3 separate regions of the Homo sapiens genome follow, and all the other regions are reported to be linked to region 3. The links are microRNA targets in miRTarBase. Many come from high-throughput screens and were not tested one by one. Region 3 holds a microRNA gene; each other region holds the end of a gene's coding sequence.

Region 1 (4,064 bases), not on the chromosome of region 3:
TTTCCAAAGTCCATGCATGTTCCAGCGGGTGTCAGAGCTTCATTCCTCTTTATGGCAGATTAACATTCTGTTGTATGTGTCACCATATTTATTTATTCATGTGTTGATGAACACTTGGATTGTTTTCATATTTTATCTTTTGTGAATAATGCTGCAATCAACATTCCTATGCAAGTACCTGTTTGAGTCCCTGGATTTAATTTTTTGGGTATATACCTAGGAATGGATGTTGTTTCAAATGAGAATTCTATGATTAGCTTTTTGAGGAACAGGAAAACTGTTTCTCCTAGTGGCTGTACATTTTTATATTCTCACCAGCAATATATGAGGATTCGAAATTCTACATAATGCTGCTACTTGTTATTTAACATTGTAAAAGAATGGTAGCCAGTTTTGTAGGTGTGATTGGTGTCTCATTGTAGCTTTGACGTTGTATTTTCCTAATGACTAATGATGTTGAGTATCTTTTCATGTCCTTCTTGACTATTTGTATATCTTCTTTGAAGAAATGTCTATTTGAGTCTTTTGCCCATTTATAAATTGGATGGTTTGTCCTTTTGTTATTGAGTTGTAGCTAGTTCTTGATATTATCTGGACATGAAAACTGCCTATATGTGGTTTGCAGATATTTTCTCTCATTCTGTGCCTATTAATTATTTTCTTGATAATTTCCTTTGATGTACAAAAGGCTTACATCTTGATAAAGCCCAATTTATCTTTTTTTCTTGTTTCTCATGCTTTTGTATCATATCTAAGAATCCACTGCACATTTGAGATCATCAATACTTACGTCTATGTTTATTTTAAGATGTTTTTATGGTTATAGGTCTTATATTTAACTCAGTGATCAATTTTTTAGAGAATGGTTTGATATCGTGGGAGGTAGAATTATCTAAATTAACTGTTTTGCATGTGGTTATCTAGTTGTTTCTGCACTATCATTTGAAAGGAGAATTGTTCCTCCATTAAATTGTCTTGATACCTCCTTCAAAGAGTAATTGACCATAAGTGTCAGGGTTTATTTCTAGACTCTCAATTCTATCCCATTTGTCTTTATGTCTATCTTTTGCCAGCAGCTTCTGTTTTAATAATTGTACTACTTTGTCAGTTTTCAAATAAGAAAGTTCAAGTCCTACAATTTATTTCGGCAAGATTGTTTTGGCTATTCAGTGGTCCTTTTTGAAAGGTGGGAAGGCCAGTGTTTCACAATTGGGAAAGCCTTTTCTGTCTTCTTCAGGGGGAAATTTGGGAGAACCTTCAAGAAACTTATTCTAAGTAGGTAAACTGTCACCACTTTATTTGCTGAAGTGCTATGTTAAAGTGTGCATTGCCTCTTGTGGAAGAATTGTGAGACCCTGGAAGCACTTGCCCATGTGGTGAGAGACAGTAAATTCCACGATGAGGGGGGAAGGGAACATTGTTTTAGGACACCGTGTTGTTGGGGAGTTGTATACATCTCTACTTATTTATGTCTCTGTACAGTGGGTGTAGGGACCAGCCCCACAGGGTCGGTGGGTTTTTCTCCACATGTACAGAGATGAGAGATTGTAGAAATGAAGACACAAGACAAAGAGATAAAAGAAAAGACAATTGGGCCCAGGGAACCACTACCACCAAGACGTGGAGAACGGTAGTGGCCACGAATGCCAGGCTGCGCTGATATTTATTGTATACAAGACAAAGGGGCAGGATAAGGAGTGTGAGCCATCTCCAATGATAGGTGAGACCACATGGGTCACGTGTCCACTGGACAGGGGGCCCTTCTCTGTTTGGCAGCTGAGGCAGAGAGAGAGAGGAGAAAGAGCTTACAGCATTATTTCTGCTTATTAGAGACTTTTAGTACTTTCACTAATTTGCTACTGCTAACTAAACAGCAGAGCCAGCTGTACAGGATGGAACATGAAGGCAGACTAGGAGTGTGACCACTGAAGCACAGCATCACAGGGAGACGGTTAGGCCTCCGGATAACTGTGGTTGGACCTCACTAACATCAGGCCCTCCACAAGAGATGGAGAAGTAGAGTCTTCTCTAAACTCCCCCGGGGAAAGGGAGACTCCCTTTCCCGGTCTGCTAAGTAGTGGGTGTTTTTCCTTGACACTGAGGGTACCTCTAGTCCATGGTCCACTTGGCAACAGGTGTCTTCCCAGACGCTGGTATTACCACTAGACCAGGAGCCCTCTAGTGGCCCTGTCTGGGCATAACAGAAGGCTCGCAATCTTGTCTTCTGGTCACTTCTCACTATGTCTCCCCAGCTCCTATCTATTTATGACCTGGCTTTTCCTAGGTTATAATCATAGAGCGAGGATTATTATAATATTGGAATAAAGAGTAATTGCTACCAACTAATGATTAATGATATTCCTATATAATCATATCTAAGATCTATATCTGGTATAACTATTCTCCTTTTATATTTTATTATACTGGAAAAGCTCGTGCCCTCGGTCTCTTGCCTCGGCACCTGGGTGGCTTGCCGCCCACAAGTGGGCATCTCCGTTGGACACAGTAGGTTTTGAAATCCTTGTTTATTCTCTGGGGTCTGGGTCTTGGCTTACCTGTTAGCTGCAGCTGAAAGAGGTGTCTGCTAAGTCAATGACACCTGTGGGGAGAAGAAGGATTCAGCAGAGTGAAAGTAGCTGGGACTCAGAGAAGCCAGGAAAGTCTGACTCTTAGAAACTGTGGGTCAGCAGATGGGTGTCCTCAGGGATAAATGGGCCATGCCGGTAGCCACTGCAGTGAACTGGAAGAAGGTAAGGGATGCTGGGTATCCCATGTTCTCTCTCAGCTCTGCAGCTGAAGATTTGGGCCCTGGGCTAGTACAGCCCTGCAGCAGGGGAAGGGTATACAGGAATGGCTGCATATCAGGACCAAGTCCATGTCATCTTCTTAGGCATTGTTACTGCAGATGGAGGATTCTGTTCAGAGACCTGGCCTGGACACATGGGAGGGCCCACCCCATTCTTTTAAAATTATTTTAAGAGAACAGTATTAGCAAATGTGGTACATGTTTTATTCTGCTAGAATCAGTATTACTGTCACGTTTTACACTGTATCTCTTAGGAAATGGTGAGAGCCATCCACACAATGTGCATTTAAAGGAGACTCTACTATAATTTCAGCTTTCCTACTCTTTATAGAAACCATCTTCTCTGCAAACACACAGGCAATATCTCTGTGTTCATTTCTATTGGGAGCCCTGTATGCAAGATGGAGAGAGCCACATTTCCCCTGAGATGTTACGTAAAAGTTTGAGGTTGAGATGACATATCTGACACTCTGTTGTTACCCTCAGAAGCTACTACATGTGAAATTCTAATGACTGCATTATCCTGCCAAGTGAAAGAGGCAGGCATGAGCAAGGACGGTTAAGAGGGGTGGGAGCCTTATCATGATGGGGAGTCTTGTTCTGACATCTTTGGAAAAACTGTCCACAGTGTGAAGTCATCAACTTGTTATCCTGGTTTACAGTTTGAGTAGCTGTTGTTATGGTGTCGAACATTTTGGTGAGTTCTGAGTGGCTCACATGTCAGGTACAAGGGTTTTCCCATGAAATTTACATCGAGTTGTCCACCTCCAGCTTATAGGGCTTCTGGAACAGAGTGGGTCTTGCTCTTCGTGATTCCATGGGAGAAAATGGAATTGGAGGAACTAGTAGAATTCAGGGTAATATCCAGTCTACAGGTGGATAATAAAAACACAGAAACAATGAACAGAGCTGCAATCTCATAACCGGTGTACTACAGTTTTTATTTTCCACATAATTTTTCTCTCTATGGGCATCTCTAGTTTTACCAATGATAATTTCAGTAGAATAAGTTTGTTTGCAAAATAGGTTGAGTTTCTTCAAACGTGGTCTGATTCTTTACATAAGTGCAGCAAGAGTAGCAATAGACCATGTAGGCGCTCTTTTAGAATTTTATTTGCTCTAAGTTTTTATAAGGACTCTCAGATTAAACTTTTACAAAACCCTTGAGAATAGGAAGCCAAACCAAGGCTGACTTCAGACTTTGCCTGCAGTTCATATTGGTTCATTCTATCTATATTCTTGAATATAACATCCCAGT
Region 2 (4,064 bases), not on the chromosome of region 3:
CACTGCCAACCTCAGGGTGACAGCCCAGGACAGGCCCTAGCTCCTCGCCTAGAGAACTGATTGATCTCCTCTGGTACTCTCTCACCAGATGGCTTGACTGTCTAAAATTTACATCTTAAATCACCTCCTGGTTTAAAAGAAGTAAACCCAGCTAACTATATGATGAAGTGTGACCCCTGGGAGGGCACACACATTTCAATTAGGTTCAGTACTAACCTACATTTTTCAGTTTCCTCTGTATCCATCCTGTTTTCCAGGCACGTGGAACTTCCAGTTCCTTCTGGATCCACTTTCACTGGTGTCCCACTGTCATTTCCATCAGGGCACACTCTTCTTCTCTCCTGTACTTCCTGAGCACTCCTCCCGTGAGCGCCCTCCTGCCACTACCTGGAGGCAAATGCTCTGAATGCCACAGTCCCGAGGCACTCACGAATGCTCACACTGCGGTGACTGTCCCCACAGAACACCGTTCACACCCTGAGCACTGTTAGGAACTCCACTGCTGGGGAAGCCAGATGACTGGAAGGCTGTGTGTAGGCGAGGAGGCCTCATCGCCTGAAACTCCCAGGCAACAGGTGCGACAGAAAAATGATATACTGACAGGAAAAGTTTTGTGAGAGCTTTAATGGCACAAAATGTTTATAGCTACAAGTTATACATGTATTGTAAACTGTATATAACGATACAAAGTGCTAACTAAAATAGATGAAGAATGCATAATCACTTTGGCTCAGTTAATTCCAATAATTTCCACAACGGGTTCATGAAAAAACTTATCTGACTGGCTAAGTCTTCAATTCTCATTTTTTTAGAATAGTAAATATTTTTACTGCAATCACGGGAACTTGTTGCACTTTCCAATGTGCAAGTTTGTGCAGTTTTGCTCTTGATTCTATTTACAAACATCTTGAGCCAGTTTTCATCAAACATATGAAAAATGAAGCCTGCCTTTTTGTCCCCAAATTGTAAACAGGTGTAAAGCTTTTTAAACATTAACCTCACAATTTCAACTATTAATTGTTGAATTCTCCTTTCCAAACCACAATGTTTTCGTTCAACACAAATCTGGGTGTAGCAGTAAAACGTTCATCCCATGTGTTAGGGCTACAGATACATACTACATGCTCTCATAATAAATTCTACTGTGATGATGTATTCACGTTTTAAGTAATTTTCCATAATTTCACTGATGCTTTAAGAAAAAGGGCAACACTATGTTTCTTTTTAACGCTGAAAGAAATCATAAATATACCCAGTTTCAGTGGCACCACTGATAGAACTGCTGCTGAACTTGGAAAGAGCACAATGCACTAGCTGTAAGAAGTCACTTTCAGGTAAAGTGTAATTTTACTTTTCCCCCCTGTAATACCAATTGTAATAGAAATTGCATACTGTAGCAGTTTAGCTAGTCAGTTCTCCTAACTTTCCAGTCTTTCCAATTTTATTCAGGCTTTTCAAAAATCAGTGAGCCATCAGATTTACTTTCTTCCCAAAGAAATTCAAATATGAACACTTGAAATAAATAGGTTATAGAAGGCAAATCAAGTGTTACCAGGTTTAAGAGTAAGACAGAAACATGGTCTAGGAAAAAGATGTCCAAAATTATTTAGACATCAAATGCTAGAAAGAAAAAAGAAAATTACTTTCAAAACTAGGATATATCATCTTTCTTAAAGATAGCCAGCTATATTCTTGAAAAAAGATAAAAATTTTGTTTAATCTATATGTTATTTTCCACTATAACACATCAATTTTACAAATGTTGATGTGAGAAAAGAGTTAGTTTCTGCAAACTGGCAAACCTGTCTGTCATAGTGTTTTTATTCAAGTTGACCTGGTGCACTTTATAGATTGCTAGTTTTAAAATTAACAACGGTTCTCTAAATAGTCAATATCAATGTCTATATCATAAACAGTAATTATTTATATATAAAACATGTGGTATCCTTCAGAGTCATGCTAGATGTTCTGAAATCCAAGAAAATCTACTCGAGATAACTGGTCATCCTGATGCTTTCTAACAATTTGGTCCTAAAGCTTCACATTTTAGAAATGAACGAACAAGTATATCACTGAAGGAATCTGTTGAGTGTTCTGAACTTTAAGAGTTTACCATAACTGAAAAGACAGCTACATGAGAAAATGACCAGTGCCTGCAGTCGCAGGAATCACCTTGGGAAGACTGTACAGTAAACATTATTCAGTGAGAGATCAGAAGGAAACAAATGGCATCTTTTCAGAACGCTGTCAACTGTTCCCACAACCCAAGTCTGTTTTTCCAAGTTGCACAAGTGCTTGGAATAACTCTGAAACAATTCTCTTCAGAGTTTAAAGGCTTCAGAGTATAGGTGATGCTTCCTAAAACAAGAAGCCTGTATTAACATCACAAATTGGAACTCATTCCAAAGCCTCTTCTTAGAGAAAAAAAAATAAAGAAATAAAAAATAAAAAATGTAAAGAAGGTCATGAAAAATTCACATGCAGCTAATTATCGTAAAAAATATCAAACACACACGCAAAAATCTCAAAAAGCAATTTCATATATTTCTAAGCCTGAGACGTTCCTTATCAGAAAGAAAGATTCTACACCATAGAAAAGACAGCATTACAACATACTAGTATGAAAATCTGCTGATGTATTTTACTTCTTATTCTATTTCATACCTATCATTTATACAGTTTGCCTCCTATAAATTAAAAGACGCTATTAGGAGGCTTAGACAAAAAAGTGGCTCCAAAGCTGGTTTAAAATATTTTTTTTATTGCCCAGGATATTTTTTTGTTGTGCCTTGCCTTTTTTTTTTGTTTTGTTTTCTTTTTAATAACTATCAACTCAAACTTAGGGAAACTTGCCTTTGTCTTGGGGGAAAAAAAACAACTAGACAATAAAGCTTCTTTTACATCATTTGCTAACCTGATCTCGTTTTAAGAGAGAGATGGTAGTTATGTTGCAAGAGTAAAATTTATACCATGAATGATACAGGTCTAGTCTGGTGGCACTAATTAGAGATAATAGCATTGCTGACAAAATTATAATCTGCTGGTGGCATTTGCGGAAAAGAAGCCCTTGCAAATTTCTAAACAACAGTAAACTCTGTTAGGAAATTCTAAAATGTCTTCAGGCCAAAAAGGGTATAAGGTTAGTAAAATGCCTCAACAGAGTTTGAATAAAATATTGAATTTGAGAGTTACTGGAATTGGATATGTAAAAACAGGGTGGTAGGTTGGGTCATGCTTACAATGGTCTCAAGTTCAAATAAGCTACTGTGACAATACACCACTTCACAGGTCACACGCATTTCCAGGGGCTTTTCCTTTCCCTCAGTAGGTGCTGGCAGAGGGTGTGCTCAGTCGCTTTCCAATATAGATGCTGAAAGGAAGCAGAAGCATCATGTTTCACCTGTTTCAACAGTTCTATACCAGCTTGTCCACAGGTTGAACTCTACTTAAAACTCTTCAGTCTTTGTAAAAGGCTCTAAAGGTTTGTGGGTACCGCTCCCCAAACACCGTGAAATCATCACTGACTTTCTTAAAACCAGTCACCAGCCCGGCCAAACTGGTTTTATATGAGTTTGTTTACTCATTAAATATCGGGGCTCGACAGCAAAGGGGTAGTGATTAGACAAAGTAAAGCCAGAGAGAACAGATCCCTCCACAGAGTAAATAAAGCAGCCCAACTCCTTCAAGATGTTCCTCTTTGGTGGACAGAAGGTTCTACTGACATTTCAGACACAAAAATATAGTAATATGTGAAATTATTCTGGTGCTCTATGTAGGACAAAAGAAAAAAAAAACCTTAAAAGCTGCCAGTGCTTTAAAGACAGCTCTTACTAATAACTCCTAAGGATTAGGGGCCTTATAATACTTTTTCATGCCAAGAAAGTATTTGGCCTCTTCAACAGCAAAAGCAGAAGGGAAGTTAAGGAAAGTATGTAACTAGCTTCACCTCCAGTGCAATTAAAGCAACGAACTTTTTAAACACTCTTTTTACATTCATCTATAGCAATAGTTATACTTACAGCCAAGACAAACAATCTGAAGATGACTGAAAGAGAGACGGCAAG
Region 3 (4,000 bases):
CTCCAGCCTCTAGGACCTTTTGGCCTTTCCCCAGTTTGAGAGCTGCAGGCCCCAGGGTTTCTCTGAGTTGTCATAGGCAGTTGTGGCTGCGTCTCTTCCTCTGTGAATACAGGTTCCTTTAGCAGCCAACTCTGGGGTCCTTTCCCAGCACAGATGTCCAGAGAGAGGCACACGGTGGCTGTGGGCCTTGGGGGGTTCTGGGCTCCCTGCCTGGTCTGGCCCAGCGGGTGCCTGGGATGGCCTTGGTGCTCCTGTTCTCACCTGTACTCTCTGCCCCCAGGGAAGGCTACAACAATCCCCCCATCTCAGGTGAGAATCTGATTGGCCTGAGCAGAGCCCGGCGCCCCCACAATGCCATCTTTGTCAACTTTGAGGATGAGGAGGTGCCCAAGCAGCCACTGGAGGCTGCAGCCCAGACGTGGAGGAGAGTCTGCACTAACCCCGTGGACCGGAAGGTGGAGGAGGAGCTGAGGAAGGCAAGTCCTGCGCTGCGCCTGGCCCCGGTGGCTCCAGCCTCTCTGTTGGCTTCCCGTGTTTACCCAGCTGCTCCCTGTTCCTGGCTGTGGGGTTGGCTGCACTGACCTTTACCCATTCCTTAGTGCATGGGAACTTCTCACCTTCAGATGCCATGTCTAAAGGCTGTGTCGGTATAAGTTCTACATTCCCAAGGTTGAAAATGCTTCTTAGAGTTCTTAAGAAAAATATGCGTGCGTTGTTCAGATGTGACATAAACGTGGAGCTCTGGGATCCACTGAGCTCTTATTCTTCCATTCACTCATTGCAGCCAAGCCAGTGGGGCACCTAGTGTGCCAGGCCCAGCACTTTCTTACCGTTAGAACTGGAACCGTGCTGCCAGGCAGCCCTCCTTCCCCGGGCTTGCGGGTGCCGTGGAGTCCTGCGTCCCCACTGGCATGAGCATCAGGTTCACAGGCCACTGCCACCTGGAGCCCGGCGCTTCCCTTACGCAGTGTGCCTGTGGGAGACCACGTGGATGTCTTGTTGATTTCCAGCAGTCACTGGGGCACACTGTCAGTGGCTCCTTATTGCCCACCAGGCACAGCCCACATTCCTGACCTGAATTGGCTCGTGAGGCCCGCTGCCCCAGCCCCCTGGCCCTCTACACTCCGGCCACACTGACCTTTGCAGTCCTCCCCGGGCCAGGCTGTCCCCTTCAGCCCTGACGATGTCCCACCTCAGGCACCTGTTCTGTAGATTGGGGCAGCATGGGGACCCTGGGACTCTAGCATGTGCCCCCTGAGCCGTACTCCCCACCGCGCTGTGGGCTCTATGAGGACAGCGACCATGTCTCTTATCGTTTGAGAGACCCAGCCCCACAACTGCACTTGGCACAGGCTGGGCATGCAGCCCAGGCTTCTGAGGGAAGGGATGAATTAGTGAGAGCAGGAGGTCCTAGGGCCACGCCCTGTGTGTCCAGCCCCTGTCCTCTACCAGCTCCTCTCTGGAGGGGCCGCTGGGGCCCAGAACATGTTGGGAGTTCAGGGCCGAAGGGTGGAAGCTGCTGGTGCTCATCTCAGCCTCTGCCCTTGGCCTCCCCAGCTGTTTGACATCCGTCCCATCTGGTCCCGAAATGCTGTCAAGGCCAACATCAGCGTCCACCCAGACAAGCTCAAGGTCTTGCTTCCCTTCATAGCCTATTACATGGTAAGTGTCAGCTGCCCACCCACCTGCCTTGGTTTCCACCCATGTGGTCCCTGGTCCCTGCTGTGATGTCTTAGAGCCACAGTAAGAGCAGCCAACCCCCTATCCTGGCTCCCCATCCTTCCTGCCCCACCCCCATCCTGGCCCATCCTTCCTACCCACCCCTGGCCTGGCCCTCATCCTTCCTGCCCTGCCCCCAACCTAGCACCTCCCCCGTCCTGGCACCCCCATCCTTCCTTCCCCCCTGTCCTGGCCCCCCGATCCTAGCATCCCTAAGACAGCTTATTAAAGCCAGCTAGAAAAGTTTCAGCTCCCTGAGTCCAGGGCGCCCTCCACAGCCTGTTGGGCTGCAGAACCCAGCCCCTGACCACAGCGGCCCCATGTCGTCCTCTACCTGTGTTGAGTGGGGTTCAGTGGGAGGCAGATCCACCTTTGATCCACAAGCATGTAAAGACACATGTCATTACTGAGGTTCCAAAGGTGCTGGTTGGAAAGGGATCCTCCCCGCTGCCAGGCCTCACAGAGCATTAGGGGAGGCCAGCGTAAGACATGACTGTGAGGGTCTGCAACAGGCAGTAGGACACAAGAAAGACTCATTTCTTCTGCCTTGTTGGACTTCCGGCTCAGGAGAGCGACCTGTGCTGCTTGGCGTTGGCATTTTATTTTATTTTATTTATTTTATTTATTTTGAGATGGAGTCTCACTCTGTCTCCCAGGCTGGAGTGCAGTGGTGTGATCTCTGCTCACTGCAACCTCCGCCTCTGGGATTCAAGTGATTCTCCTGCCTCAGCCTCCTAAGTAGCTGGGAGTACAGGCGCACGCCACCATGCCCAGCTAATTTTCTTTTTTTGCATTTTTAGTAGAGATGGGGTTTCGCCATGTTGGTCAGGCTGGTCTCGAACTCCTAACCTCAAGTGATCTGCCTGTCTCGGTCTCCCAAAATGCTGGGATTATAGGCGAGAGCCACTGCGGCTGGCTGGCATTGGCTTTTTAGACATAAGCCATTCAAAAGCTCCGTTTAGGGACAGAAGATGTCTCATCGATTAGGCCAGTAGTAACATTGGGCACTTAATATGTGCCAGGAACCATGGTAAAGGCTCCACGGGCGCTATCTCATTTAATCCTCTGAAAAACCATGGGAGGCCAGGCATGATGGCTCACTCCTAGAATCCCGGTACTTCGGGAGGCTGAAGCGGGAGAATCGCTTGCATCCAGGAGTTTGAGACGAGCCTAGGCAACATAATGAGACCCCATCTCTACAAAAAAATTAAAAATTAGCTGGGTGTGGTGGCTCGTGCCTGTAGTTCCAGCTACTTGGGAGGCTGAGGTAGGAGGATCACTTGAGCCCAGGAGGTTGAGGCTGCAGTGAACCGTGATTTTGCCACTGCACTCAGCCTGGGCAACAGAGTGAGACCCTCTCCCCCAAAAAACAAAAACCCACAGGAAAGGGTGCTCCTTTTCCCTCCATCTGACAGGAAGACCAAGGTTTGGAAAGGCCACGTGCCCTCACCAAGGTGACAGGGCCTGCATGTGGCAGAGCAGGGCTGGGCATCCAGAGCCCTGTCCCCAGCTCCTGAGCTCTTCTGCTGCCTCACTGTAGGCTCTGGCCCGTCCAGGGACCTGGGCCTTCACCTCACCTCACATTTTCCCCACTTTTCTGTCCCAGATAACAGGCCCCTGGCGCAGCCTATGGATTCGATTTGGGTATGACCCCCGAAAAAACCCAGATGCCAAGATTTATCAAGTCCTCGATTTCCGAATCCGTTGTGGAATGAAACACGGTAAAAATTCCTGAAAGCTTTGCTTCCTGCCTTTCTCTCTCTTTATCTTTCAGTTTCTAGCATTCTCTTTTGTAGTAAGAATCTTTTCATTTGGAAAGAATAAAAAAACCTTTTGCCCCCGTTGCTGAGACTCTTTTGAATGCAGAATGGCGTGGAAACGAAAGTCCTAGTTCTGTGCTGGCCCCACCACTGACCGCCCGTTTCTGAACCACAGTCCCTCATTAAGTGACTCCACGTGCCCTATGGTCCTGTGATGCAGGCCAGGCACTTGTGAGAGCATCAGTGCCCGCCCTGCCTGGGAAGTGCTGAGATGTGTTGGTGACCGCAGTGGCGTGCTTGGCAGTCTGGGGTTGCCCTCTCAGGAGCTGGCCCCATGGACCCAACTCCCATCTCCAGTGTGAAGCCAGTGTTGTGTGCCGACGGGCCCTGTGCCCGCCCACCTGACTTGCCCGCCCTCGCCTACAGGTTACGCCCCCAGTGACTTGCCGGTCAAAGCAAAGCGCAGCACCTACAACTACAGCCTCCCCATCACCGTCAAGAAGACATGTAAGCGTGCCAGG

The links. The annotated mature microRNA hsa-miR-6877-3p reads CAGCCUCUGCCCUUGGCCUCC and lies in region 3 at 1,533-1,553, shown strand. An mRNA with a match to its seed (bases 2 to 7 or 8) in the 3' UTR can be bound and repressed. Matches are read on the target gene's strand: a 7mer-m8 pairs with bases 2 to 8, a 7mer-A1 pairs with bases 2 to 7 and ends in A, and an 8mer does both.
Region 1: miRTarBase lists PSG4 as a target of hsa-miR-6877-3p. The part of its 3' UTR that is shown has no 7-base or 8-base seed match.
Region 2: the mRNA of BNIP3L is a reported target of hsa-miR-6877-3p. Seed matches in the 3' UTR shown: 7mer-m8 at 2,407-2,413.

Annotation. Positions count from the first base shown.
Region 1 is chr19:43,189,714-43,193,777 of GRCh38, forward strand. PSG4 (pregnancy specific beta-1-glycoprotein 4) reads right to left here. Exons shown (of 6, transcript NM_002780.5): 6 at 2,989-3,675. The coding sequence ends at 3,659. Among named protein-coding and RNA genes, the nearest start is that of PSG5, 5.2 kb to the left of the region's middle.
Region 2 is chr8:26,409,670-26,413,733 of GRCh38, reverse strand. BNIP3L (BCL2 interacting protein 3 like) reads right to left here. Exons shown (of 6, transcript NM_004331.3): 6 at 607-3,370. The coding sequence ends at 3,322. Among named protein-coding and RNA genes, the nearest start is that of BNIP3L, 29 kb to the right of the region's middle.
Region 3 is chr9:133,050,503-133,054,502 of GRCh38, forward strand. It overlaps MIR6877 (microRNA 6877), which reads left to right and starts at 1,494; the gene lies at 1,494-1,557. It overlaps GTF3C5 (general transcription factor IIIC subunit 5), which reads left to right. Exons shown (of 11, transcript NM_012087.4): 4 at 281-476; 5 at 1,558-1,662; 6 at 3,326-3,440; 7 at 3,906-3,986.